Regions from separate parts of the Homo sapiens genome. Here all the other regions are reported to be linked to region 4. Evidence: microRNA targets listed by miRTarBase, many of them from high-throughput screens and not tested one by one. Region 4 holds a microRNA gene; each other region holds the end of a gene's coding sequence. Distances are from middle to middle.

Region 1 (4,075 bases), not on the chromosome of region 4:
CTGGGATGAGAACAGTGGGCCCCAAAGGCTTGTGTTGCTTGGACCAAGATCACGAATTCAGGACATTAAGCACCTCCCCTCCCCTGACTCCACCCACTGAGCCAGTGCCCCCAACACTGATGCCTCTCCTCTTGCCCCTTAGTCATCCAAGGAGGAAGCCGAGATGGCCTACAAAGACTTCCTGCTCCAGTCCAGCACCGTGGCCGCCGAGGCCCAGGACGGCCCCCAGGAAGCCTAGACGGTGTCGCCGCCTGCTCCCTGCACCCATGACAATCACCTTCAGAATCATGTCGATCCTGGGGCCCTCAGCTCCTGGGGACCCCACTCCCTGCTCTAACACCTGCCTAGGTTTTTCCTACTGTCCTCAGAGGCGTGCTGGTCCCCTCCTCAGTGACATCAAAGCCTGGCCTAATTGTTCCTATTGGGGATGAGGGTGGCATGAGGAGGTCCCACTTGCAACTTCTTTCTGTTGAGAGAACCTCAGGTACGGAGAAGAATAGAGGTCCTCATGGGTCCCTTGAAGGAAGAGGGACCAGGGTGGGAGAGCTGATTGCAGAAAGGAGAGACGTGCAGCGCCCCTCTGCACCCTTATCATGGGATGTCAACAGAATTTTTCCCTCCACTCCATCCCTCCCTCCCGTCCTTCCCCTCTTCTTCTTTCCTTCCATCAAAAGATGTATTTGAATTCATACTAGAATTCAGGTGCTTTGCTAGATGCTGTGACAGGTATGCCACCAACACTGCTCACAGCCTTTCTGAGGACACCAGTGAAAGAAGCCACAGCTCTTCTTGGCGTATTTATACTCACTGAGTCTTAACTTTTCACCAGGGGTGCTCACCTCTGCCCCTATTGGGAGAGGTCATAAAATGTCTCGAGTCCTAAGGCCTTAGGGGTCATGTATGATGAGCATACACACAGGTAATTATAAACCCACATTCTTACCATTTCACACATAAGAAAATTGAGGTTTGGAAGAGTGAAGCGTTTTTCTTTTTCTTTTTTTTTTTTGAGACGGAGTCTCTCACTGTCGCCCAGGCTGGAGTGCAGTGGCGCAATCTCGGCTCACTGCAACCTCCGCCTCCCAGGTTGACACCATTCTCCTGCCTCACCCTCCCAAGTAGCTGGGACTACAGGCGCCTGCCAGCACGCCTGGCTAATTTTTTGTATTTTTAGTAGAGACAGGGTTTCACCGTGTTAGCCAGGATGGTCTCGATCTCCTGACCTCGTGATCCGCCTGCCTCTGCCTCCCAAAGTGCTGGGATTACAGGCGTGAGCCACCGCGTCCGGCCTCTTTTTTTCTTTTCTTTTTTTTGAGACAAAGTCTCACTGTGTCACCCAGACTGGAATGCAGTGACACAATCTCGGCTCACTGAAACCTCTGCCTTCCAGGTTCAAGCTATTCTCATGCCTCAGCCTCTCAAGTAGCTGGGACTACAGATGTGGGCCACCATGTCTGGCTAATTTTTTTTTTTTTTTTTTTTTTTTGTAGAGACAGGGTTTCGCCATGTTGACGAGACTGGTCTCGAACTCCTGGCCTCAAGTGATCTGCCGCCTCAGCTTCTCAAAGTACTGGGATTATATAGGCATGAGCCACTGAGCCTGGCCCTGAAGCGTTTTTCTCAAAGGCCCTCAGTGAGATAAATTAGATTTGGCATCTCCTGTCCTGGGCCAGGGATCTCTCTACAAGAGCCCCTGCCCCTCTGTTGGAGGCACAGTTTTAGAATAAGGAGGAGGAGGGAGAAGAGAAAATGTAAAGGAGGGAGATCTTTCCCAGGCCGCACCATTTCTGTCACTCACATGGACCCAAGATAAAAGAATGGCCAAACCCTCACAACCCCTGATGTTTGAAGAGTTCCAAGTTGAAGGGAAACAAAGAAGTGTTTGATGGTGCCAGAGAGGGGCTGCTCTCCAGAAAGCTAAAATTTAATTTCTTTTTTCCTCTGAGTTCTGTACTTCAACCAGCCTACAAGCTGGCACTTGCTAACAAATCAGAAATATGACAATTAATGATTAAAGACTGTGATTGCCACCAACGAGGCTCAGACTGTATTTGCACCCAATACCTTCTGTCTCCCAGACAGCCTCTTCAGAGCTTTTCTTTTCTTTTTCTTTTCCTTTTTTTTTTTTAAGACAGGGCACTCTGTTGCCCAGGCTGGAGTGCAGTGGTGCAATCATGGCTCACTGCAGCCTCAACCTCCTGGTTTCAAGTGATCCTTCCACCTCAGCCTCCAGAGTAGCTTGGACTACAGGCGTCCACCACCACACTGGCTAACTTTTTGTATTTTTTTGTAGAGACAGAATTTCGCCATGTTGCCTATGCAGGTGTTGAATTCCTGGGCTCAACTGATCCTCCCACCTCTGCCTCCCAGAGTGCTGGGATCACAGATGTGAGCCACTGCATCTGGCTGCCTTTTGCTTTGGTCCCAATTTTAGGCACCCTGGGACCCCCTTGTCTGTTAAGATCATTCCTAGGTTCTGGTGCTGAACCATGTCATATCCTCTAAGGGCTGCCCAAGCTGTCTGTTGGCAGCTAGCCCCCCATCTCACCCCTAGACTCTTCCACAGGGCTTCTGTGTGTGGAGAGTTCTCTCTGCAAGAGAGTTCTCCCCAGTCTGCCATCCTGCCTGATGTGAACCTTTGCTTCCACCCAGGCCTTAAACATAATGCTGTGGATGCTATGAGCTTCCCAAGCCTACCTTTTCCTGGGACTCAGACTTCAGGCCTCCTTTGGTGTTCCCTCCAGCCCCACTAACTGCAGTACTCCAGTCTCAGTTCCCAGGCCCTGACCTGGGTCAGAGTCTTGGGCTTCTATCCAGCCAGAAGAGGGGGCATCAGAAATGTTTTTTTCTTTCTTCTGTGATGGGGATGCATACCTTCTGGAATGACAGCAAATCGTTCCAGGAGGATCAAAATGACAGGTGTGTCAGAAACTACCACTGTCTTACCCTTCCAGGAAGCTGTTCTCTGACTCACCAAAGGGCCATGTTTATGGTAGAGGATTAAGATGCAACTTCTGTACGCATTGCAATAACCAGCGAGCCAGTCCTGAACTCGTGTAGCCTATCCCAGCCCTTTGAAGCAAAGGTCAAGAAATGTCACTAAAGCCAAAAGCGATCTTATATTATTCCTAAGTGATATTGTCAGTAAGGCTCAAAGTCCATCTGCTCCCCGTGTAGCACAAGAAACCCTTTTAAATAAGGAAGCTAGTTCATAGGTTCCAGTGGACGTGAGTTTGGAGAGGATATGATTCAGCTTAGTATAGGGGAGTGACCATAAACTGCAGGATTGATGATGATAAACCAATTAGCAACGGTCAGTGGCCCCGAGCATTCAAGGAACTGTTTAAACATTTGATGACAAGGAAATCTTTCCCAAGTTCTTGAATTATCTTAATGTTTATTCTTTTTTAAAAGTCCAATATGTAAAGACAGGACTATTATTAAGGCCCAACAGGACTATTATGAAGGCCCAACTATTATTAATGCTCAACCACTGCTGGGCATTATTAAGGCCAAACAGTGGTTAGGAATTTTTTTTTTTTTTTTTTTTTTTTTTTTTTTTTTTTTTTTTTGGTAGAGACAGGGTCTTGTTTGTTGCCCAGGCTGGTCTGGAACTCCTGGCCTCAAGCAATCCTTCTGCCTCTGCCTCCCAAAGCATGGGGACGACAGGCGTGAGCCACTGCACCCAGCCAGGAACTTGTTTATAGCAATTGATTTTGTTTTGTAAAGCTAAAAAATAGATCTCTGATTTAGACTTTTCCAAAACTCAAGACAGAACATCTCTCCTAAGAACATTAAACAGCAGCGAGAGGAACTGACTGTGCTATGGTCTATGAAACCGGTCCCCCAGGCAGAGAAACAAGTAGAGTTTCCCACCCCATCCCTCCCAGCTTTCCTAAAATAATTATCTCTACTAAGGAGTCTGCGCAACAAAAATAAGAGATCATCTCAAAAAGGCTACATGTCTAAGTGGACAGTGGACATGCTGAGAGGCAAGCTGTGAGACTGAGACCAAAGGTCCCAGCAGGCTGTGGAGCAAGGCAGGCATGGAGAGAGGATCATCGGTATAGGAGCC
Region 2 (4,061 bases), not on the chromosome of region 4:
TCCCACTGTAGACGAAGGCCACTTTTGCACTGACTTACCTCTTGTCTCAGTCTCTCATACATGACAGACAGATGTTCCTCCATACTAGGATCTCCTGACGGGGTGGCAGGGGAAGGGTGGGCAGTTCCAGGGACTTGGAAAGGTATCCAAGCCCCAGGATAGGGGCAGGGAGGTCCCTCAAAAAGGCTTCTAAGCCCATCCAGGCAGCCGCTATGCAACTCAGGTCCTGGTCCCTCCTCCCCCTTTCCTGGAGGGAGAACCACCCATGCTGAGCTGAGGGCCTGGATCTGAGGGAGAGGTAGTGGGGGAACCTGGGGAAGACGCTGGGTGGGAAGGCGTGGGGGCAGGGGAGACCAGAATAGAGGAGAAGATGGGGAAGTGGTTGTCGTGGAGTGGGGCCAAAGGGGTGGGAATGGTAGAGTCCCTGGATAAAGCTGGTCCTAAGGAGAAAGAACAGAAGGGAGAAAGATAAGAATCCACTTGTCTAACACCCCTTGATCCCCTGGATGCTCAACAGGCTTCCAATACCTATTCCTCCTGACAGAATGGATGGAATTACTATAGGAAAAAAGGGATGGATTCATCTCCATCTCTACTGAAAACAGGAGGAAACCATTTTATTTTATTATTTATTTTGAGATGGAGTCTCGCTCTGTTGCCAGGCTGGAGTGCAGTAGCACGATCTCAGCTCACTGCAACCTCCGCCTCCCGGGTTCAAGTGATTTTCCTGCCTCAGCCTCCTGAGTAGCTGGGACTACAGGCGCGCGCCACCATGCCCAGCTAGTTTTTGTATTTTTAGTAGAGACAGGATTTCACCATGTTAGCCAGGATGGTTTTCATCTCTTGACCTCGTGATCCACCCGCCTCTGCCTCCTAAAGTGCTGGGATTACAGGCGTGGGCCACCGCGCCCAGCCGAGCAAACTGTTTTATGTGACATAAATACCGGCACCTCCCAAAACCTAGCAGACATTTTACTTTTTTTTCTTTTTTTGAGACGAAGTCTCACCGTCGCCCAGGCTGGAGTGCATTGGCGCGAACTCGGGTCACTGCAACCGCCGCCTCCTGGGTTCAAGCCATTCTCCTGCCTCAGCCTCCCGAGTAGCTGGGATTACAGGCACCCTTCACCACGCCCGGCTAATTTTTGTATTTTTAGTTACAGATGGGGTTTCACCATGTTGGCCAGGCTGTTCTCGAACTCCTGACCTCAGGTAATCCGCCCACCTCGGCCTCCCAAAGTGCTGGGATTACAGGCGTGAGCCACCGTGCCCGGCCCAGTGTTGGAATCTTAAAGAAATGTGGCCGGGCGCGGTGGCTCACGCCTGTAATCCCAGCACTTTGGGAAGCCGAGGCGGGCGGATCACGAGGTCTAGGAGTTCGAGACCAGCCTGGCCAATATGGTGACACCCCATCTCTACTAAAGATACAAAACAATTAGCCGGGTGTGGTGGCGGGAGCCTGTAGTCCCAGCTACTCGGGAGGCTGAGGAAGGAGAATTGCTTGAACCCAGGAGACGGAGATTGCAGTGAGCCGAGATGGTGCCAATGCACTTCAGCCTGGGTGACGGAGCAAGACTCCATTTCAAAAAAAAAAAAAAAAAGATTCCAACACTGGGGGCAGTTTCACCTCTCTTATCGCAAGAATCATGTAATACATACTTGATGAGTTAACGAATAACAGGTTTTATTGTACTGTGGATTAAATGCTGTGGCCTGTACATCTCCATGATTAAGTGTGCGAGGCAAATGTACAGAGAAAAAAGAATATCCAGCTGAAGCTAGGAATCTGAATTCTATCATGTAACTTTAGGCATTCTCATTCCCTATGCCTCCGCTTCCTACAAATGTCCTATAAATGAGAACAATAAAGCCTCACTGGGTTATGAGGCCTATATGAAATAATGAATGTAAACAAAACGTAGCGACCTAGAAAGCAGTACATAAATGGAAGCTATTATCATTTCGGGCCCCTCTAATGACAGACACAACCTCAGGAGACAGTTAAAGGCTGGCCTTCACTCTCCTGGGTTTACCGACGTTGAAACTGCAAGGGGAGGTCACCCAAAGTTAGGCCTCACCCGAGTCCCTCCGCTCCCAAGGAACCCCCCAGGGGATCGTCTCACTGCAGGGAAGGCGGGCGGACCGCTCGGGTACCTCGGTCCCCGATGGTGTCCTAGAGGCGCCGTCTCTGCTGGGGGCGTGGCCATCTTGCCAGCCCGGGCGCAGGGGCCCGAACCGGGTGCACACTGGCCGGCCTTCCTGCCAGGACCGCTCTCCGAGTGCAAGACGGGCGGGCTGCTGAGGGCGCCCCGCGGGTCTGGTCTGGGCCGGGGAACTCCGGGACGGCGCCGCAGCAGGGCTACGAATCTCTCGGCCCCTGCCCTTCAAATCACCTCTAGGCACAGGTAACCGCGGAGAGTCGGGCGCAACGCAGACGCGCCCCGCTGCCTGGCCTTGACCCCGCCTGACCGCCCTCAAACCTGGGAGGACCGACGTCCTTGCGCGACAGGCCCGGCAGCGCCTCCCTCCCGCTCCCGCGACCCCTAGCCTGTCCACGCGCTGCAGGGCACAGGTGGGAAGGGGCGGCGGGTGTCTCTGCGCCTGCGCGGAACCCAGCGCGCGCTCCGCCCCACGCACCGGCTTTGAGGAGGGTCTCTCCCCGCCCCCTCTCCTCCCTCCCTCTTCTCCTCCGCTCACCTGGGGTCGAGCCTGGTAGGCGCGCAGGCAAGGGCCGAGACGCCGGGCCGCACCCCGGCTGGGCTGGTACATGATCTTCCGGGAGTGGAGAAGGAGCCTCCTGAGTCCGACCTCCGGCCTCCTCACAGGGGTGAGCGCGCCCCAGAGCCGGCTTCGTGAAGGGGAAAGGAGGCCGGGGCGGGGGGGTAGGGGGGGAAGGGGCTGAGGGAGGGAAACGGAGATGTCCCGCGCTTGCGCACTGCAGGCTCGAGGGAAGCGGCTGAAGCGCTCTGTCGGCTGTAAGCGCGCCTGCGCCCGCGGGCTCGGAGACTGCCTGAGTGCGCTTGCGCAAGTTACAGCCTCCCCCGCCCCCCCAAGCGCTGTATTCACAGCTGAGGCCTTTGAGCAAAAAGCTGAGCAAAAACAGGGCTGAAGGCTGAATGGGTGCAACGACAGTGAGGGGTGAGGCGGCTGAAATAATGAGTCAAATTTTTCAACAGCTCTTGTGATAAAAATAAATACTTTTATTGGTCTGGTTAAAAGATACAAATGACTTGAATCTGATAAGCCTGCTGAATGAATGAATGAATGAATGTATCCATCTATTATGAGGGTTGGGCTTTGGCTCTTTCCTGTAGTGAGGGAGAAATAATACTTTGAAGATGTTTGACGGGGCTGCGGTCACCAAGGCCTGGTGCTGCGACGTTCCTGCAGGTTTCGAATGAACCTGGCGTTGAGTATGTCCCCACCCACTGTCCAGGACTGGGCTGGCGGGGCCGGGGCCTGTGGAGGAGCTGTGTGCATGGGCTTCTCCCCAGACCCATCCTGTGACAAGGCCTGCTCCTCACTGGCAGACCTGGTAGGTGGGGAGATGGAGAGTGGGTTATAGGAATACTAAAGAGGAAATTAAGATTACAGACTCTTCAAGGTCTCGGGCCAGGTTTTAATGTAGGACACATGATGGGTATGAAGCTGGAACCATTAGTGCTATGTCCAAATTTAAAACCTCTCAGAGAATCCGTATTCCAAAGGGAAGTACCAGAGTTGAACCTGTGGGGGAAAGGGGCTTGCAGGATGTAAGGTAGAAGGAATTGTGGGAGGAGCTGGTGTCCAGTTCATACAATAAGATTTAAGAGTAGGAAGTGACTGAGAATGATGTTAGGAAGGGAGTCAGATGGTGGTGGGAGGCTGTTAGGGGAGGGGTTTAGACCTCACCTATTCTTTGTTTCCTGTTCTCCCTGCTTGGAGTCTTGGTTGCCTGTGGAAATATCAGGCATGTGAATGGGAAGGCAGGAGTAGACAGTGAATGTGGCCTACTTGATTTGAGGGTAGGGAGGAGTGAATACTTACCTGTATTGGGGGATGAGGAATTCACCCCCCCATGGCGG
Region 3 (4,075 bases), not on the chromosome of region 4:
AGCCGGACTTACTGTCTAAAAGTATTAACCGTAATTTCAAAGACAAACCACACCCCTTCCTTTTCCCCTAATGGCCTCAGAGATTTGTAATGTACTTTGGAAAATTAACTTCTAAGGCAGAGTGGAAGCCAACCTCAAGTCCTGCCACTTGGACTCTGTGTCTTCTCTTCGAGGAAGCAGCATTGTGCACCCAGCAGGGGCAGATGCTGAGGCTTGCCTTAACATCTCAGCAGCTACAAAATGAAATCCACTGATACAGAACCCCTTGCTGTGAGCAGTGAGGAGAGAGAGCTGTAAACAGACACAAATTGAGATTTTTGCACTTCCAAAAAATACGAGGTGAACATTAGTGCTAAACAGAGAGAATGTTCTAGGAAGGGAGAAATCTGAGAAGAAAAAGTAAGATGAGAGAGAAGAAACATGATTTTTCTAATGTACTTGTTTGAGATCAACACTTTAAGACTACTGATAAAACTAAATTTCGTGGGGATAGACAGTGAGCAGTGAGCATCAGCCAGTGAATCTGGCTGCAGAGGAGAGATGGAATTGGGCGGCTGAAGTGAAATGATGCCACACATTCACACATATCTAGCCAGGGCTTGTGCAGATGAAGGGATCTTAGCAGCTGGACAGCAGCACAACATAAATAATGCCACTTGTGAATGGTGACAACTGCTAGGCAGGGTGAACAGAAGACGCCAGCTCACACTCTTCCTAGCAAGTGCCTGCATTTAGGAGGAGGTGCACTGCCCACTGAGAGCTGGAAGCCCGCTCCCAACAGCAGCATTTGGAGGACAGAACCACCAAGGGGCTCTGAGAAAGCTACCTCTGGCTTGGAGAAATTGGGGTGACAGGAGCAGGGTCACAGAGCTCAAGAGTATCTGGCCGGAAAAGCCCACGGTTTCCCTTTGCTCCAGCAGATGCAGCCTCACACTCCCGAAAGCCTTTGCTCCGTTGCTCTGTGATCATATTTCTACTTATCCTGGGAAGACACTGGGGAGGGCTCTCTACCTCAAGAAGCCCTTTGGGCTGCATAAGAGATTCTGGGCTGGCTGCGAGCTGCTTGCATAAGAGGAGGAAGGGCTTCCTCCCACTACTACTGACTGGCTGACCCTTTGCTTGATGCCTAAGAGCTGTGCACCTGCATAGCCAGGAAGGTCCTCTGGCTGGAGCTGCCCTTCCTGGGTCTTCTGAAAGAGCCACGCAATCAGTCTGTCAGTGTAGCAGGAGCACAAGCCAGAGATCAAATAGGCCATGCCAAATTGGCTTCCAGAAATCCTAAAGCTACAGCCAACTCTCCTACATACCACGTTCTCACGGCCAGGGGTGTGGAAGCAATAGCCTGCATCCTGCTAAGAGCTGGGGGACCCCAGTATTCTACCATCCAGTCCTCAGGTCCCAACATCACAGTCCCAATCTCAGAACTCGGATGGGCAGGATGGTCTCTAGCAGCTCTGAGTAAACAGAAACGTCCACCAAGGAGGACATGGGCAGGACACAGGTCTGGCCCTCCAGTTGGCATCTACCTTCTCACTGAGACCACTCTTAGCACCGCTGGGAAAGACAGCTAAGATAGCGGCTGGGCTGCCAGAGCCCGAACTTGGAACCAGGAGATGACAGTTTCTGAGCCCACTTTGGTAACTTCTAAGCCTGAGACTTCAGAAGACAGGGCCTCTGCTACTCCCGGCTAGATTCCTGGTCACATAGCACCTGTTAAGAGTCCACCATAGAACAGAAAGGGTGGGTGAAAATCGTCCTTCTCCTAAGGAAGAACAAGTCAACAATGATAGCATATTCCTAAGTTAACAAATTATTAGGTAGGTTGGGAGTCACTACAATGAGAGTCCACTTTTCCCATCCCTTCACCTGGAAGTCAGCTCTCCTGGCTTTGGAACAGAAGAGACAGAAAAAACTGGGGCCATATGGGTGGGTCACAGCCCTTATGAGCTTTGGCGAAACACAGAAGCAAAACCCCTGATACATTTTTGCTGCTCTCCTTCAACCAGCTTTCAGAGTGAACTGTATCTGCAGTGAAGCAAGAGCCTGGTGACGGGACAGAAGAGAAAAGGAGTCTGGTCTGTTACTTACACAGGAACACACACACACACGCACGTACACACACACGTGCACAAATACACAGCTAAAGAGGGGGAATTCATCAATGGCCTTCTGAAATACTTCGCACACCAAGAGGAAAGAAGAGGCAGCCCACAGCAAGGCAATGTATCTTCCTCTGCCTTCTCTGAAGTTTGCTCCCAAATCTGAAGGCTGACCTTGAGGAGGGCCAACCTCAAGGCTGTTTGTGAAACCCAGGGAGGCATTCTGGGGGAAAGACAGGGCTCATAATTAGTGTTCAGTGGGTTCCTTTCAAAGTCCAGGCCACAGAGGCAGTGTGGGGCCGGGCACTGGTTCTGCCCTTTTCCCCACTGATTGTAAACAACCGAGCACTGCGCGTAGTGTCAGACCAGCTGCTGTAAAGTCTATTAACTTAATTTCAAACTCTGTGCACACTGACCTCAGCTACTCATCGGTGGCAATAGAGCTGGTGTCGTCCCAGCACGATGGCAACAGAGCATTGCTGATCCTTTCACCTGGCGTGGGCTGAGGCTGAAACATGGGCCTGCATGCACACAGCCCCATTTTATACGCCTCTCACTCAGCCACCCTTCCCTCGGCCCGGTGCACCCATACATTTCTGCAGTCCTTCAATGTCTTTTCGGTATGAAACCAGGCTGGTCAACAGGAGGCAAAATCTGTGCCTCCTCACCGAGGTACATTTTTAGACGATCCTGATTAAAACCTTTGAGTCCTCAGCCAAGAGTGCCGAGGACCCATGCAGACATCTGGAGCGAGCTTCTTTTCAGCAGGAGAAGTTGAGTCAAAGTTTACTGAAGAAGAAGTGATTCGTAATAGCCCCAGATCTAAGACAGTCTAAAAACAAAAATCTGATTTTAAATAAAAGATAAATATTTTCAGTTTAGGCAACACTTCGTATGTTTTAAGAGCTAAAGCAACTAAGAACACAGTACTGTGACCCACACTAAGGAATCCAGGGAAGAGAAGCATTGCCTTAGGGGTCACAGCAAGCCAGAGAGTCCAGATTAAAAACTCCAGCTTGGGGGCCTGTTTCAAATGACCAGGTAGGTCCAGCCACCCCCTGGAGACTCGAATAGGAAGAATACTGAGATACAACATTTGGGAGAGAGATGAGAAAGAAGCCCAGCTTTATAAAGAGGGGGCGTTCCCAGTTACTTAATCTATGCCTGGCCCAGAAAAGGTGAAAACATGAGGTGGGGGACATGAAAATTGTTAAATAAAGTGAACTGTGCAGTAAGAATGAGTTGGGCGAGGTGCACCAGCAGAGGGGAGGCAGGTAGGAAGGAGGAGGCATGATGAGGGGGAGCTGGAAAGTTCTGGGTGTAAATAGGTACAGGTGAGCGATGGCAGCCCTGTCACTAGTAGCACTTCTGCGTGTCTGCCACCCCACCTCTCCCCTGCCCTCAGGTTACCTGGCCCAGGGTATCCAGGTGCCAGGCAGAGGGGTTCCCACACAGCAACCCTGACTTTCCTCAGAGCCTGGACCATACCTGAGGCTCTGAGGACAGGTAACGGGGGACACATGGGGCAGGGGTAGGCAGCTGCAGAGACGAACCCAGATCCCTATATGAAGGCACAGGTGGAATTGATGAAGATGGGAGCATTGCTTGGCTGGATCAGCTCATAGAGAGCCTCATAGGTCCCCACCACAAAGCCCACGAAGCCCAGGATGCTGATCAGGGCGTCCTTAAAGATGGTGAGGGGGCTCATGCCCTCTGAGTAGAAGGTGGTGACCTCCAGGAGCGGTGGGATGATGAGGGCCAGGGCGCTGCTGCTCACGGAGCCCACCAGGGAGATGACCAGGTCCAGGCGGGGGATGAGGATGGCCAAGATGCCTGCAGGGAGAGAGGACATGCCTGTTTAAGATGCCCAGAGCTGGGAAAGGTCTGTCTCCCTACTGTTGAGCGAATTCAGCATCTGTCCATCTTATAGGATTGAGAGCTCTAAGAAAACTTAGACATTGTCCAGTTCAATCTCT
Region 4 (4,075 bases):
AAGGTGTGCACACTAGGTACCTGTCTTCACGCCGTGATTAATGCCACTCACAGAGATGGTGGCGTTGGCAATGGGGATGCCTTGCTCGTCCGTCACCACCCCCTTAATGCCGCGGTGCACCTAGGGAAGCAGGTGAGGGCTGCTGGTCCTCAGGAAGGTCCAATGTGGTCCGCTGCTCCCTCCCGCCCATCCAGGAGCCTGTGCAGCCTCCTCTCCCCAGGCATTGCCCTAGCCACCCCACCTGCTCCATGAAGGTGAGCAGCGCCTCCTTGTTGTTCTCCCACTCGCGGGGCAGCTCACTCTCATGAGGGAACTTGTCACAGCCCAGGTAGAAGGAGAGCTCCAGGCAGTTGGTATGCAGGTAACTGAAGTCATTGATAGCTGGCCGGGGACAGATACAGACCCAAAGTCAGCCCCTCTCCGGACCAGGCCCCGCCCACAGCCCCTCCCAGGCTGACTCACTCCCGGTCCGGGGGTTCCACTTGGCCCCGTTGACGATGCCCATGCCGCCGGTGTAGTCCTGGGCTTGGCAGCCTCCGCGGTAGGGCTCGGTCAAGGTGAGGTGTGCGGAGGCGAAGGAGATGGCAAGCCACCGGAAGATGGCGTGGTCTGGAGTCTCCTGGGCCTCGGAGACCTCGTCCTCATCCTCCCCCCGGGCTGCTGCCATGGCTGCGGCCAGCAGCTGCTCCTGGGTAGGCGTGCGGGCCATATCGTAGGGGTAGGATACTAGCCGCTCGCCGCCGTTCAGATTTGCTCCCAGCACGAAGGGGTTCTTCTCCATCCAGGCAATGATGGCCCGGACCTCCGTGGATACCTGGAGTGGCCAGCACGTGTGAGGCCAGGGCTGCAGCTCCGGCCACTATCCCCAACCTAGCCCGATCACCCTCCATGAAGCTTCACACCAGTACTCGCACGATCCCCTGTCCCCCAACCCCCAGAGCCTCAGCGTCTGGAGTTCAGGCACCGTCAGCCCCACCCCCAAGCCCAGAACACCAGGACCCCAGGGTCCAGCTGCTCCCTCCTGCCCTTTCAGCCAGGCTGTAGCCTCACCGTGGCATCTGGCGAAAGGTAGCGTTCAGGGATGGGCAAGTTATTGTTGGGGACCCGGTAGGGGACCCATTTCCTCTCCTCAGCTCCCCAGAGCACAGAGTTGAGATCCGGGAAATCTTCAAAGATGTCAAAGCCCTCCTCAGTCCACAGTCCCAGCGCCCAGTTCCCAAACTCTGAGCCCTGTGGGGAGCCAGCAGGGTAGGCATCGGCTACCCACACCCCCACAACCCCCAGCTGCCTGGACCCTGGCCAGCCTCACCCTTCAACCCACCATCTGCGCTGCCACCTCGTAGCCATCAGGGTTCAGTGAGGGCACCAGGTGGATGCGTGTGTCCTGCACCAGGCTGCGCACACGTGGGTTCCCATCGCGGTACTCTCGGCACAGGTACTGCATGAGCAGCAGCAACAGCTCTCGGCCCAGCACCTCGTTGCCATGGATCCCAGCAGTGTAGCGGAACTCGGGCTCCCCTGCAAGGGCGGGAGCCTCAGTGAGCACTCAGTCTCCCGAGGCCCAGGGCAGCTGAGGAAGGACCCAGACCCACCTCATACCCGAGGGTCTGGGGGACAGCTGGGGCTCCTAGGGCCCTGTAAGACAAGCCAGAATCCCCAGAGAGGCTCCGGAACAGGCGGGAGGCAGTGAGCTCTGCACATCAGCAGCAGAGGCCAGCTGCTGGCCCCCACAGACCCTCACCCAGTTCATGCTCCCCAGGGTTGTCTGAGATCTCCATGGCATAGATCTTGAGGCCTCGTGAGCTCTTGCCCAGGCTGTAAGTGCGGGTGATGGTGGGGCACTCCTCGTTCACCACCTTCATGAGCTGGGGCAGAGGGGGAGGACGTGGAATCAATCATGCAATCCGTCCCCCGCTGACCATGCCCCTTCCACTTCCAGGGCCTGCTCTATGGCGAGGGACGGGCATGACCCCTTCACGCAGCCCCCAGGTACTGGCCTCCTTCCTAAGGTGAGGGACAGCCAGCATCCCTGGAACCAGTAGGGACTGGGCCCAGTGACAGAAGCACCAGGCACACACTCCCGTCAGCCACAGACAGGTCCCACCCCCAGCCCCAGGATATATGCTCCCAACCTGGCGCATGTCCTTGTAGCTGTGGTGCCGGAAATCCAGGTCATCGGTGGCCACCACCTCATTCTGTGCGTAGTAGCTGTAGACAGCTGCAAGGGAGGCGGGGTTGTCTTTAGCTGGGTGCCGGCTGGCCCACCCTAGCACCCCACCTCCACTCAGAGCCCCTGCCAGCCCTCCACACTCACGGGCCACAGAGCACCCCAGCACCTCCAGGCGCATGCACAGGCTGCCATTCCAGGTGAGTGGGTAGATGCGGATGAAACGAGCCACCACCGGCTCTGGGAGCTCACTCAGCACGGGTGTGTCCTTGTCCACGTTCCCATGAAAGGTCTGGGGAGAGGCAGGCCTCAGAGCAGTACTGCCAGCCCCTCTGAGAGCCCACCCCTCGCCCAGACAATGGGAGCAGAGCCAAGAGCCTGGGCATGGTGCCCACCATTTCCTCATAGCCGTTGGTGTACATCACCCATGTCTGGCTGTCATTGCTGAAGCCCACGAAGAAGGTGGTCACAAAATCGTCACTGTGGAGTGGACAGTGGTCAGAGCAAGGGTCTTCCCCCTCCCAGGCCCTCAGGTGGCCTGAGCCTCCCTCTTCCGAGCCCCAAGAATTTAAGAGCTAGCAGGGTGGTGCTGCACGGCCCAGGTGTTGAGCCTGGGTCCTATGCCCGTCACATAGCCATGGGCAGGTGATCTGTCCCTAAACTCATGTGCTATCAGGACACAGGGGCTGACTGACCAGGCTGAGGAGTGGGGATGGGCAGGGTGAGTCCCTCACTGATCTTTTTGGCCTTCTTTGGCTGGGCCAAAGAAGGGCCCACTGGAATCTCCTTAATGGGACACAGAGCCATGCCTATGTAGCCACTCCCCTCTGCCAACTATCCATGAGCCTGGCCACGCACTGGATGCTGGAGTCTCTGCCCTGGGTGATGACGCCTGTGAACCGGGTAGTCCTCCTGGTGTCCACCTCTATCCACTGGGTCCTGGCATCGTCCTCGGCACACCACGCACCATCATAGTAGTCGTCCTCAGTGGCACCGGTCTGTCCAGGGGGCAGGGGAGGCTGAGCATGGGCGGAGGAGTCCCTTATCCCAGTTGGGAGATGGGCCCATCCCAATGCCCACCTGCATGTTGAGCCGGCCGCGCTGTGCCCCCAGGCCGTGGCGCAGCATGGAGGAGGCTCGGATCTGGTTGTCCTCAATACGGTGTGACTCCATCCCAATGGGGGGACACTCTGAGGACGCGTACCCCAGAATGGTGGCTCACTAGCTCCATCCTTCCCTCCACCAAACCCAGAACCAAGGAGCCCAGAGCCCACTCCCGGCACATCGGGGGCACAGTCAGAGGGCAGCTCTGGTCAGCTGGTGGCTCCCTGGTGCCCTGCACCAGCCCACCTGGAATCGACTCAAAGCCAGGCCAGGAGCTGTTTCCAATCCCAGCCTGTGCTTCCCCTCCCTGGGCCTCAGCTGCCCCATCTGGAGAACGGGCTGACCATGCCCAGCTCTCAGGGGACACACGTGAAATCACAGGTAGAGCTCCCCCAGGGCGCAGCCACAGATGTCATCCAGATGGGGACCGTCTGCACAATGGCCCTGCAGGGATACCTGTGAAGGTACCTGAGGTCCTCACTCCCCACCAAGGCCCCAGGTCCTCCCCCTACCACGCCCAGCCACTAGGGGCCCTGGGGAGCTGCCACCCTCCTGAAGCAGGCCAGCCTGGGGTCCAGGGCTGGGGCAGCCAAGCGAGGCTATCCTGGGCTCCCGGGGCCCCTCCCTTCTGGGTCCCAAGAATCTGAGTAGGAAAGGGTTCCGGGGACCTGGGTCCTGTTTGTGACATTGGGCCAGTCACTTGTCCCAGCACCCCCATCCTGTGGCCCCCACCCTCACCCCCTTGTGCCCCCCACTTACTGACTTTCTCCGTAGGCGTCCACTCCTCCTCCAACTCCTCGCCCT
Region 5 (4,075 bases), 110 Mb from region 4:
AGAGTGAGATTCCATCTAATTAATAAATAAATAAATAAATAAATAAATAAATAAATAAATAAAAGGCCAGGTGCAGCAGTTCACATCTGTAATCTCAGCACTTTGGGAGGCTGAGGTGGGAGGGTTGCTTGAGCTCAGGAGTTCAAGCCCAGCCTGGGCAACATAGCAAGACCCTATCTCTACAAAAAGTAAAGAAAAACAAAATAGCCAGGTGTGGTGATGCATGCATGCCTATAGTCCCAGCCACTGGGGAGGCTGAGGCAAGAGACTGCTTGAGCCCAGGAGTTCGTGGCTGCAATGAGCAATGATTGAATCATTGCACTTCAGCCTGGACAACAGAGTGAAATCCTATCTCTCTCTTTTTTTGAGGAGTCCCGCTCTGTCGCCCAGGCTGGAGTGCAGTGGTGCCATTTCGGCTCACTGCAACCTTTGCCTCCCGGGTTCAAGCGATTCTCCTGCCTCAGCCTCCCAAGTAGCTGGGATTACAGGCACCCACTATCACGGCCGGGTAATTTTTTGTATTTCAGTACAGATGGGGTTTCACCATGTTGCCCAGGCTGGTCTCAAACTCCTGAACTCAGGCAATCCATCCACCTTGGCCTCCCAAAGCGCTGGGATTACAGGTGTGAGCCACCATGCCTGGCCTGTCTCTGTTTTTAAAATTTTTTTCTTTACTCTAGAGACAGGGGTCTCACTATGTTGGAAGGGCAGTCTGAAACTCCTGGTCTCAAGCAATCCTCCCACCTCAGCCTCCCAAAGTGCTGGGGTTACATGAATGAGCCACCACGCCCAACCGGATTGCTTCAGCTCCAGAGGTCAAGGCTGCAGTAAGCCAAGATTGCACCACTGCACTCAGCCTGAATGGCAGAGCAAGACTTTGTCTCTACATAAACTACATTTTCTCAGAAGGAAAATAAAAATCCACCCCCAAAGCAAAACCCCTGTTCTGCTTCAGGATGTGGACTCCAGGGTCTTCACTGAGGATCTTCGCTGCCTGGGAGCCAGCAGAGGCTAACATCCTGAGTGTCACCATCCCCGATCAGCTCTGGGGATGAGGCTCACTATGGGATGCTCCAGCAACCTGTGCCAGGGCTTGGGGCGACTCATGGTGTAGCTGAGGGGTACTTGGTGCAGTGGTATCCACCAGCCTAGGATACAGGAAAGCAGAGAGGCTTGGCTCTCACTAGCTCAGTCCCTAGGTCTCCTTGGGAATCAGCCCCTTGAAGGTAAAATAAAGGGATCACACTGAGCCTTGTGCTCAGGTGTTTTTTTGTTTTTGAGTCGGGGTCTCGCTCTGTCGCCCTGGCTGGAGTGCAGTGGTGCGATCTCCGCTCACTGCAATCTCCACCTCCTGGGTTCAAGCGATTCTCCTGTCTCAGCCTCCTGAGTAGCTGGGATTACAGACACCCGCCACCACGCCCGGCTGATTTTTGTATTTTTGGTAGAGACGGGATTTCACCATTTTCGTCAGACTGGTCTCAAATTCCTGACCTCGGGATCCGTCCGCCTCGGCCTCCCAGTGCTGGGAATACAGGTGTGAGCCACCGCGCCCGGCCAGGTGTTTTAAACCCATGTCTCAAGTGACGTCTCCCCTCTCCTCACACTCCTGCAACCAAAAGACATTCTGACCTTTCCATGATCTAGATTAGGAAAATACTTCGTGCATATGCTTTTTAAAAGTGGCACACTACCCCCCTCCCCCAGCAACTGATCACTGGAGGGTCCCCTTCTGCTCTAACAAAACTCTACTGAACCCTGTCTAATTTCTCATCTCAATTTGCTTTCTTAAGATTTGTCTCCTTCAAAAAGCAGAATGAAGAAAAAAAAATACCCCATTGAATTGGATTCCAGTTCATTGAGGCTTTACTGTAGGCAAGCTGGAGAACCCCCAGCTCTGTGAACATGCAGTCTGCAATCTGGATACCTTTTATTTAATGTCAAGAATTCCCTTTGCACGGCAAAAAGGGGTCTGAGGAAAGCGGAGCAGCGTAGATGAGGGCGAGGGCGGAAGCAGGACGCTCGCCAAAGTGGTGCCGGGTGCCGGCTGCCCACTGTGATCCCGGCTGGGAGGAACGCCGGACCCACGGCAAGGGCAGGGAAAGTCATTTTTGACACAAACAAGGGTCCTGGGGCATACCACCCCACCCGGTGCCAGGCCATGCAAGACGCTGAAATGGAGACTGTGGCCCCTCGGGACGCAGCGCCCGGAGCTATGGAGCAGGTGCACCAACGTGAAGGGGAATCCTTTGGGCGCTTCCCGAGGCGCCTGCAGGGTGTGGAGCACAGCAGGGTCTGTATCCATGTCCGTGAGCACGGGCAGTAACAGATAGCACCAATTGGGAGGCCCAGGGCAGGAGAGCCTGAGGCTCAGACTCTAGCACCCACTTGCCCGGCGCTGCTGGGAAGAGACACGTGACGGCTACTCTCACAGCAAAAGCCTCTCCCTCGCCCCTCTGCCCTGGGAGAACTGGAACAAATCATCATGGTGAGGTCTGACCTGGGGCCCTAACTGCCTGTGGGGGACCAGGCCACTGTTGTGCAGTGACAAGATGCTGCTGCACCAGATTGAGGGGCTGGGGACAGGCTGGGGCCGAGGCGGCACCAGGAGCTCCCATGGAGAAAGAGCCCTCTGAATGTACAACCTGGGGCGTTCCGTAGCCAATCTGTTCCCGGCTCCCAGGAACCCCAGGAGCTGGCCTCCTGTCGCTTCTGGTTTTATCCGTGGGTGAGAGCAAGGAAAGGAAGAGAGACCAGGAAAGGAAGAGAGACCAGGAGGGCCAGGCCAGCAGCTTCCCGAGCAGCGGAGGTAGGCGGAGAGCGCGGTTGGGCAGCGCGCGCCCCTTCCCGTGTGATTGGGTGAACCGTCTCACCTGCCTCTCACTTTACTCGGTCACCAGGAAAATCCTACCCCACCTATCTGAGAGGGATAGGCCAAGGGTGAAATGGATAACGGATAGAAAACACTTAAAAAAGTATAAAGCGCTATTGAAACGCGAGGCAGTGTTGTCATCATGAAGGTGTTACCCTTAGCACATCCCTCGGCCTTCGCTTTTTTTCAGGGCGTCTCCTAACCTTGGGACCTGATTTCCTGATCTCAGAAGGGCTTCGGGACTCCCTGGTGGCTTCCCCTGATGACCATCTGTGGCCCAGTGGTCCCAGGGCACTCGAGGAGGTGTGAGGGCGGTGCCCGAGGACGCTCGGCTCCTCGCGGTCCCCCTGGCTCTTCCCCAGCAGCTGGGTCCACCCTAGATGAGCTGGGCGTCCATTCAGACCAGACAGATCTGGGGGATCCCTGCCCCACCCTGGGGGACCCCCAACCGGAGTGCAATGCCTGTTGCCGATTTCCAGACGGTGGCTGAGGACACCCGGCAAGGTGGTTGGTGCTCAGGCCGCCCCCGATCCACTCCGTCCGGCCCTGCCCTCCCCCAGCCCAGCCCTAGTCTCGCTCAGGAGGCGGCGGGAGCTGCCGTGGGGCGCCGGGGCCCGGGCCGCCGCTGTGCACGCGCAGGTGGTCCTTGAGCGACTCCTTGTAGCGGAAGCTCTTGCCGCACTCGCCGCACGTGTAGGGGCGCTCGCCCGTGTGGATGCGCTGGTGCTTGAGCAGGTTCTGCTTGCGGATGAAGCTCTTGCCGCACAGTGCACATTGGAAAGGCCGCTCGCCCGTGTGCAGCCGCTGGTGGTTCTGCAGGTGCTCCTTACGGCTGTAGGTCTTCTCGCACTCCGAGCACTTGTAGGGCCGCTCGCCGCGGTGCGTCATCTGGTGGCGGATGAGGCCCGAGTGGCAGTTGAAGCTCTTCTCGCACTCAGCGCACTCGTAGGGCCGCTCCTTGGTGTGGCTGCGGTGGTGGATGATGAGGCTCTTGCGCACGCCGAAGCTCTTGCCGCACTCGGGGCACGAGTAGGGCTTGCTGCGGGCGCCGTGCAGGAGGAGGCTCCGCCGCAGCCCGCCAGGGCAGCAGCTGCCACAGCCGCCGCCTGCCCCCGTCCCCGCCTCCGCGCCGCCGCCCCCACCGCCCCCATCGCCCCCGCCGCCCCCGGTGCTGCGGTCCCCACCCGGCGGCGCCTCGCCGGAGCC
Region 6 (4,075 bases), not on the chromosome of region 4:
GCTGGTGCTCACTGTGGCGGCCCCGAACTCCGCACTCCTGGCCAGGGCCCTGCGGGCTGAACCCCTCATCGTGGGCCTTGCCCTCGCTCACAGCTGCCTCAATCCCATGCTCTTCCTGTATTTTGGGAGGGCTCAACTCCGCCGGTCACTGCCAGCTGCCTGTCACTGGGCCCTGAGGGAGTCCCAGGGCCAGGACGAAAGTGTGGACAGCAAGAAATCCACCAGCCATGACCTGGTCTCGGAGATGGAGGTGTAGGCTGGAGAGACATTGTGGGTGTGTATCTTCTTATCTCATTTCACAAGACTGGCTTCAGGCATAGCTGGATCCAGGAGCTCAATGATGTCTTCATTTTATTCCTTCCTTCATTCAACAGATATCCATCATGCACTTGCTATGTGCAAGGCCTTTTTAGGCACTAGAGATATAGCAGTGACCAAAACAGACACAAATCCTGCCCTCAGGGAGCTGATATTCTTCTAGTGGAGGAAGACAGACTATAAACAAAGATATATAGGGCCATTTGCGGTGGCTCACGCCTGTAATTCCAGGGCTTTGGGAGGCTGAGGCAGGTAGATCACTTGAGGTCAGGACTTCAAGACCAGCCTAGCCAATATGGTGAAACCCTGTCTCTACTAAAAATACAAAAATTAGCCGGGCATGGTGGCGCATGCCTGTAGTCCCAGCTACTTGGGAGGCTGAGGCAGAAGAATCGTTTTGAACCCGGGAGGCAGAGGTGACAGTGAGCCAAGATTGAGCCCCTGCACTCCAGCCTGGGCGACAGAGCGAGACTCCGTCTCAAAAAATAAATAAATAAAAGATTCTATTTATTTATTTATTTTTTTGAGATGGAGTCTCGCTCTGTCGCCCAGGCTGGAGTGCAGTGGCACAATCTCGGCTCACTGCAAGCTCCGCCTCCTGAGTTCACGCCATTCTCCTGCCTCAGCCTCCTGAGTAGCTGGGACTACAGGCGCCCGCCACCATGCCCAGCTAATTTTTGTATTTTTAGTAGAGAAGGGGTTTCACCTTGTTAGCCAGGATGGTCTTGATCTCCTGACCTGGTGATCCACCCGCCTCAGCCTCCCAAAGTGCTGGGATTACAGGCGTGAGCCACCGCACCCGGCCAAAAGATTTTAATAGGATCCCTCTGGTTGCTGGTGGAGGTGAGAGTATGGTGTAGGGGCAGTGAAGATCCCAGAGAGGAGGCTACTGTAATGGTCCAAGCAGGAGGTGATAGCGATTTGGATCAGGGTAACAGAGCTGAGGTGGTGAGAGGCTGACAGGTCATGCATCTATTTTGAAGGAAAGGCCAAGTCCAGGCTCCTTAGCTCGGCATTCAAGGCTTCTCTCCACCACTGGACACACTTACTCTCTAGCTTCTCAGACCCTGTAGCAATCAGAATCATGACCCCCGGTGATGTCCACATCTTAATCCCCTGAACCTGTGAAGAGGTGACCTTCCATGGCAAAAGGGACTTTGCAGGTGAGATTAAGTAAAGGATCTTGAGAAGGGGTGGTTATCCTGGATTGTCTGGGTGGGCTCAATGGAGTCACGAGGGTCCTTTTAAGAGGGAGGCAGGAGGGTCAGGGTCAGTCACAGGAGGTGACAACGGAAGCAGATGTCATAGTGACGTGAGGAGGTGCCAAGAAATGCAGGCAGCTTCCAGAAGCTGAAACAGACAAGGAAACAGATTCTCTCTGAAGCTCCCAGAAGGAACACAGACCTCCTGACACTTTTAGACCTCTGATCCGCAGACCTTTAAGAAAATACATTTGTATTGTTTTAAGTCACTATGTTTGGGGTGATTTGTTATAGCAGCCGTGGGAAGCTAATACACACCCTTCGGGCTATATTCACGCTTCTGCATCTTTCCTGAAGCTGTGCCACTGGCTGGAATGTCCTTCTGATCTATGTTGTGCAGTTCAACAATCAAGAGCCATCTGTGGCTATTCAAATTCGAATCAATTGGCCAGGCCTGGTGGCTCCTGCCTATAATCTCAGCACTTTGGGAGGCCGAGGTGGGAGGATTGCATGAGCCCAGGAGTTTGAGACCAGCCTGGGCGACATAGCAAGACCCCATCTCTACAAAAAATACAAAAATTAGCCAGACGTGGTGGGGCGTGCCTGTAGTTCCAGCTACTGAGGAGGGAGTTGCTTGAATCCTTCTGCTTCAATCCTCCTTAAAGCAGGTAGATTGCTTGAGCCCGGGAAGTGGAGTTTGCAGTGAGCTTAGATCACACCGCTGCACTCCAGCCTGGATGTCAGAATGAGACTCCATCTCAAAAAAAAAAAGAAAGAAAGAATAAATTTTCATTTCAAATTTAGTTCCTCGGGCACACTGGCCATAGTTCAAGTGCTCAGTAGCCACATATGGCTGGTGACTGCCATATTCGACAGCACAGCTATAGAACATTGCCATCATAACAGAGATTTCTGTTACAAAATGCTGTTCTAGAATTTACTTTTGAACTCTACCTGCTCAGATCTTTTAAATTACATGGTAGGCCAGGCATGGTGGCTCACGCCTGTGATCCCAGCACTTTCGGAGGCCCAGTCGGGAGGATCCCTTGAGCCCAGAAGCTGGAGACCTGCCTGGGCAACAGAGCAAGACCCCATCTCTACAAAAATAAAAAAAAGAAAATTAGCCTGGTTTGGTGGCACATGCCTGTAGTGCCAGCTACTAGGGAGACTGAAGTGGGAGGATTGCTTCAGCCTGGGAGGTTGAGGCTGCAGTGAGCCGTGATCTCATCACTGCACTCTAGCCTAGGTGACGGAGCGGGACCCTGCCGCTAAATAAATAAATAAATAAATAACATAGTAGTGATACCTGTGTCTGCGGTCATTACTCCAGAACAGCACTTCACATATAGTTTCTCCTTTAAGGTCATTCTCACAACAGCCCAGGGAGATAGGGTGGCATGCTTCATTTTATAAGCTGAGGTCCTGGGAGGGGAGGTCATTTACCCAAGATCACACAGCAAGAACACCAGACAGCTGGAATTTGATCCCAGTTTTGACTCCAATGCTCTTGCTCTTCATCATCAATAATTTCCTTCAAGGCGTCCCTCAAATGTCACTTCCTCCAGGAAGCCCTCCCTGATTTATGCTCCTTCCAGAAAGAATGGGCTCTTCCTTTCTCTGAGTCTCTGGAACACAAGGTCCCAGCTAAACTGTAAATTCCCCAAGGGTAACAACTGGACTAATTTTTTTTAATTTAATTTAATTTTATTTTTTTGAGATGAAGTCTTGCTCTGTCACCCAGGCTGGATTGTAGTGGCACGATCTCGGCTGACCGCAACCTCCACCTCCCGGGTTCAAGCGATTCTTATGCCTCAGCCTCCCGAGTAGCTGGGATTACAGGCGCTGCCACCACACTTGGCTAATTTTTGTATTTTTAGTAGAGACAGGGTTTCACCATGTTGGCCAGGCTGGTCTCGAACTCCTGACCTCAGGTGATCCACCCACCTTGGCCTCCCAAAGTGCTGGGAATACAGGCATGAGCCACCGTTCCCGGCCTTATCCTTGACTTAGAATACCTAACCTCCTGGGAATGCAGCCCATAGGTCTCAGCCTTATTTCACCCAGCTCCTGTTCAAGATGGAGTCACTCTGGTTCACATGCCTCTGACATTTCCCCGCTCCCTTTTATAAGAGAACCTTTAATCCTAAGGGTTGTAGAGGGAGGAAGATACAACTTCTGTGACTTCTTCAGGCTGGACAGGGGTGACGATATACCTGCCTAACTCTTAGGATCTATTGGATTCAGGGTAGACAGGAGCTCAGTCAGAAAGCACTGGTATCACTTTTTTTTTTTTTTTTTTTTTTTGAGACGGAGTTTCACTCTTGTTGCCCAGGCTGGAGTGCAATGGCACGATCTCAGCTCACCACAGCCTCCGCCTCCCAGGTTCAAGCGATTCTCCTGCCTCAGCCTCCCCAGTAGCTGGGACTACAGGCGTGTGCCACCAAACCCAGCTAATGTTTTTTTTTTTTTATTTTTAGTAGAGACGGGGTTTCTCCATGTTGGCCAGGCTGGTCTCGAACTCCCGACCTCAGGTGATCCACCCGCCTCGGCCTCCC
Region 7 (4,000 bases), not on the chromosome of region 4:
TAGAGAACGTTAGGGTAGGAATCTATGTTTCCAGCTATCCTCCTGCCTCCCTTTATTTCTTTATTCAATTTTCTCTCTAGGCCTTTGTGCTTTTCCAAGGGTCATGCCTTGGCATTTGCTCACTGTACCTGATAAGGAAAGTGGCCTTGTAGCAAAATTTGACTTGAATTTTGACAGTCTCAATTATGAAACTCTCAGCCCCTGGAGACAAGACTATTTGTATCACCAGTGAGAGTTACTAGTCATTTTATATCCATTAACTCACAAGGGATGTACAGTGTATTTTATAGATAAAATTGAAGCTCAAAAGAGTGCAGTAACTTGGCCAGGTCTACATATTTAGGTAAATGGTAGCACCAGGATTCGGGCCTGCTGTTTTCTGATTCCAAGGCTAGCATTCCATTCTGCCTCTGCATTTTGTGTACCACTGGGGCACCAACTGATGCCTTCTGGAGTGTTTGATATCCTGGGGGCCATGTGTCTGATTTTCCCAAATGAAGAAAGAAAGGAACAGAAAAAGCCCCAGGATTGTATTTCCTCTTAACCTTTGCCTTGCTATTTGTGTCTAGATATATAGTCAACATGTGGCACTGTGCAGAATGGAGGGACTGCCGTACCCCACCATGTCAGAGACCATGGCCGTGTGTTCTCACCTGGGCTCCTGTCGCCTCCTGCTTGTGGAGCCCAGCAGGAACGATCTGCTCCTTCGGGTGCGGCTCAACGTCAGCCAGGATGATGTGCTGTATGCGCTGAAAGACGAGTAAAGGGGCTTCACAAGTTAAAAGACTGGGGTCTTGCTGGGTTTTGTTTTTTGAGACAGGGTCTTGCTCTGTCGCCCAGGCTGGAGTGCAGTGGCACGATCATGGCTCACTGCAGCCTTGACTTCTCAGGCTTAGGTGACCCCCCAACCTCATCCTCCCAGGTGGCTGAAACTACAGGCACATGCCACCATGCCCAGCTGATTTTTTGTAGAGACAGGGCTTCACCATGTTGCCAAGCTAGTCTACAAAGCATCTGATTTTGGAAGTACATGGAATTGTTGTAACAAAGTATATTGAATGGAAATGGCTCTCATGTATTTTGGAATTTTCCATTAAATAATTTGCTTTTTCCTGAGTGTTTGTGAAGTTATTACATTATAATCATTACAAACATCTGATTATGAAACCAAACTGTCCTTCCTACAATAGTCCTTCCATGTGACTTTTATTTCTGTTACTAGGCCTGCCATTTATTTAATGCTAACATATATAAAATATAAGTACACGATTTACTTGTATCTATATAAAATAGTTCTGGGAGAGTATGCAAAAAACTGGTTACACTGATTACCTCTGGAAAGAATCAGATGGAAAGAATCAGATGGCCAGGGTTAGGGGTTAGAGGAGGACTTTTCACTGTATGTCATTATCTGTCTTAAGTTTCAAATAATATAAATAAAATTTAGGCCAGGGGCGGTGGCTCACACCTGTAATCCCAGCACTTTGGGAGGCCGAGGCAGGTGGATCAGGAGATCGAGACCATCCTGGCTAACACGGTGAAACCCTGTCTCTACTAAAAATACAAAAAAATTAGCCAGTTGTGGTGGCGGGCGCCTGTAGTCCAGCTACTCGGGAGGCTGAGGCAGGAGAGTGGCATGAACCCGGGAGGCGGAGCTTGCAGTGAGCTGAGATCGCGCCACTGCACTCCAGCCTGAGCGACAGAGTGAAACTCCGTCTCAAAAATAAATAAATAAATAAATAAATAAAATATAGTTTATAAAAAAGGAACTACTGGAAATAATATAAATCATAAGTAATCTCTAGCCACAAATAGCTAGAAAGTGTAATTTTTACAAAGGTACCATTTACCATAAAAACAAAACAAACCTTTAAATACAAAAGATTTATATGTCACAGAAAATATAAGGTACTTAGAAATAAATTGATTTAAATATTTATTTATTTATTTATTTTTTCCCTCTGTCACCAAGGCTGGAATGCAGTAATGGATCATAGCTCACTCCAGCCTTAACCTCCTGGGTTCAAGTAATCCTGCCTCAGCCTCCTAAGTAGCTGGGATTCCAGGTGTGGGCCACCATGTCCGTCTCCTAGGAATAAGTCTAATAAAGAGATGCAAGTAATCTCTAGATAGAAATCAATTCCAATCAAAATCTTGGCAAGGTTTCTTGTATGACTTTGCAGTTAATTCTAATATTTATATGGAAACCAACAACAGGCAATGAACATCTAAAACCTCATGAAGTACTGAGGCTGGGCGTGGGTGGCTCATGCCGGTAATCCCAACACTTTGGGAGGCCAAGGCGGGTGGATCACCTGAGGTCAGGAGTTCGAGACCAGCCTGATCAATATGGTGAAATCTCGTTTCTACTAAAAATGCAAAAATTAGTCTGGCGTGGTGGTGTCACCTGTAGTCCCAGCTACTTGGGAGTCAGGAGAATTGCTTGAACCCACCCAGGAGGCAGAGGTTGCAGTGAGCTGAGATCACACCATTGCACTCCAGCCTGGGCGACAGAGCAAGACTCCGTCTGAAAAAAATAAATAAAACCTAATATGAGGTACTGAAAAAAAACAGCCCCACCCGTGTACTAGTCCTGTCAGAAATGCTTGTCCTAAATTTACTGATGAGAAAATTATCAGACAAATCTAAATTTAGGGAGAAACTCTGCAAAGCAGCTGTTCAACTCATTGAAAATACTAATATCACAAGAAAAAAAACACAAAACATGGAGGAACTATTCTACACCAAAGGAGAATAGAGACATGAGAGCTAAATGCACTATATAAACCTTGACTGGGTCCTGGATTTAGGAAATATAAACAATTATAAACATTATTAACTATGTATTAGACAGAAGTATTTTGTAAGTGTTAAATTCCCCGAGCGTGATAAATTTGTGATTATGTAGGAGAATGCTGTTCTTAGGAGATTCATAATGAAATATTTATAAGTGATGTATTATGTCTGCAACTCATTCTCAAATCATTTAGCAAAAATATGTATTTCTATATTCACATATGTATTTATAATTACATATAATGGATTGAGGATCAATATCAATATTTTTAAAACTGCAATGAAAAAGAAAAAATGAGCCAGGCACAGTGGTTCATACCTGTAATCCCAGCATTTTGGGAGGCCAAGGCAGGTAGATCACCTGAGGTCAGGAATTCGAGACCAGCTCGGCCAACATGGTGAAGCCCCATCTCTACTAAAAATACAAAAATTAGCCAGGGGTGATGGTGTGCACCTGTAATCTCAGCTACAGGGGTGCTGAGGCAAAAGAATTGCTTGAACCCAGGAGGCAGAGGTTGCAGTGAGCCAAGATTGTGCCACTGCATTCCAGCCTGGGCAACAGAGCAAGACTGTCTCAGAAAAAAAAAAGAAGGAAAAAGAAAAAAATGGGTAAATAACAAATAAGTCATCCAAAGAAGAAACACGAATGACCAAGAAAATGGAAACAGTAAAAGAGGCATGCAAACCAAAACCATTTCACATCTATTAGAAAACCTTTCTATGGTTACACAGAACAACTGGGACCCCAATACCCTGCTGATGGAGGTGGAATGACTTTTGAAGATTATTTGGTGAATCTTAGCCTAGGAAATGCAAGAAATTGTATGAGCCAGTGTATTAGTCTGTCCTCGCGCTATGAAGAAATACCTGAGACTGCGTAATTTATAAAGAAAAGAGGTTTAATTGACTCACAGTTCCACATGGCTGGGGAGCCCTCAGGAAACTTAAAATCATGGTGAAAGGCACCTCTTCACAGGGCAGCAGGAGAGAGAATGAGTGCCAGCAGGGGAAATGCCAGATGCTTATAAAACCATCAGATCTCGTGAGAACTCACTCCTATCACAAGAACAGCATGAAGGAAACCATGATTCAATTACCTCCCACAAGATGCCTCCCAGGACACATGGGGATTATGGGATTACTATTCAAGATGAGATTTGGGTGGGAACACAGAGCCAAACCATATCAGCCAGTGTGATGGTTA

Evidence for each region. Region 4 holds the annotated microRNA hsa-miR-4649-5p (UGGGCGAGGGGUGGGCUCUCAGAG, at 2,498-2,521, opposite strand). A microRNA usually pairs through its seed, bases 2 to 8, with sites in the 3' UTR of a target mRNA and lowers its output. Matches are read on the target gene's strand: a 7mer-m8 pairs with bases 2 to 8, a 7mer-A1 pairs with bases 2 to 7 and ends in A, and an 8mer does both.
Region 1: miRTarBase lists PIGR as a target of hsa-miR-4649-5p. Seed matches in the 3' UTR shown: 7mer-A1 at 1,029-1,035.
Region 2: miRTarBase lists ATAT1 as a target of hsa-miR-4649-5p. The part of its 3' UTR that is shown has no 7-base or 8-base seed match.
Region 3: miRTarBase lists SLC36A1 as a target of hsa-miR-4649-5p. Seed matches in the 3' UTR shown: 8mer at 3,343-3,350.
Region 5: the mRNA of ZNF282 is a reported target of hsa-miR-4649-5p. Seed matches in the 3' UTR shown: 7mer-m8 at 1,997-2,003.
Region 6: miRTarBase lists C5AR2 as a target of hsa-miR-4649-5p. Seed matches in the 3' UTR shown: 7mer-A1 at 863-869.
Region 7: the mRNA of ORC1 is a reported target of hsa-miR-4649-5p. Seed matches in the 3' UTR shown: 7mer-A1 at 833-839.

Annotation. Positions count from the first base shown.
Region 1 is chr1:206,926,481-206,930,555 of GRCh38, reverse strand. PIGR (polymeric immunoglobulin receptor) reads left to right here. Exons shown (of 11, transcript NM_002644.4): 11 at 143-2,034. The coding sequence ends at 238. Among named protein-coding and RNA genes, the nearest start is that of FCMR, 6.6 kb to the right of the region's middle. RefSeq lists enhancers at 1-94, 1-218, 145-434, 905-954.
Region 2 is chr6:30,645,937-30,649,997 of GRCh38, reverse strand. ATAT1 (alpha tubulin acetyltransferase 1) reads right to left here. Exons shown (of 13, transcript NM_001413067.1): 11 at 4,024-4,061; 12 at 3,889-3,931; 13 at 3,177-3,529. The coding sequence ends at 3,355. C6orf136 (chromosome 6 open reading frame 136) reads right to left here and starts at 2,865. Exons shown (of 6, transcript NM_001161376.2): 1 at 2,152-2,865; 2 at 39-440. The coding sequence starts at 2,766.
Region 3 is chr5:151,487,840-151,491,914 of GRCh38, reverse strand. It overlaps SLC36A1 (solute carrier family 36 member 1), which reads right to left. Exons shown (of 11, transcript NM_078483.4): 11 at 1-3,932. The coding sequence ends at 3,661. Among named protein-coding and RNA genes, the nearest start is that of MIR6499, 32 kb to the left of the region's middle. RefSeq lists an enhancer at 906-1,075.
Region 4 is chr7:44,109,297-44,113,371 of GRCh38, reverse strand. It overlaps MIR4649 (microRNA 4649), which reads right to left and starts at 2,523; the gene lies at 2,460-2,523. AEBP1 (AE binding protein 1) reads right to left here. Exons shown (of 21, transcript NM_001129.5): 9 at 4,031-4,075; 10 at 3,248-3,357; 11 at 3,026-3,165; 12 at 2,563-2,647; 13 at 2,315-2,459; 14 at 2,133-2,218; 15 at 1,742-1,865; 16 at 1,322-1,518; 17 at 1,051-1,230; 18 at 463-814; 19 at 242-381; 20 at 21-120.
Region 5 is chr7:149,224,009-149,228,083 of GRCh38, reverse strand. It overlaps ZNF282 (zinc finger protein 282), which reads right to left. Exons shown (of 8, transcript NM_003575.4): 8 at 1,846-4,075. The coding sequence ends at 3,437. Among named protein-coding and RNA genes, the nearest start is that of ZNF212, 14 kb to the left of the region's middle. RefSeq lists a silencer at 1,270-1,477.
Region 6 is chr19:47,341,558-47,345,632 of GRCh38, forward strand. It overlaps C5AR2 (complement C5a receptor 2), which reads left to right. Exons shown (of 2, transcript NM_001271749.2): 2 at 1-4,075. The coding sequence ends at 256. Among named protein-coding and RNA genes, the nearest start is that of DHX34, 5.7 kb to the right of the region's middle.
Region 7 is chr1:52,369,945-52,373,944 of GRCh38, reverse strand. ORC1 (origin recognition complex subunit 1) reads left to right here. Exons shown (of 17, transcript NM_004153.4): 17 at 570-1,116. The coding sequence ends at 764. Among named protein-coding and RNA genes, the nearest start is that of CC2D1B, 5.7 kb to the right of the region's middle.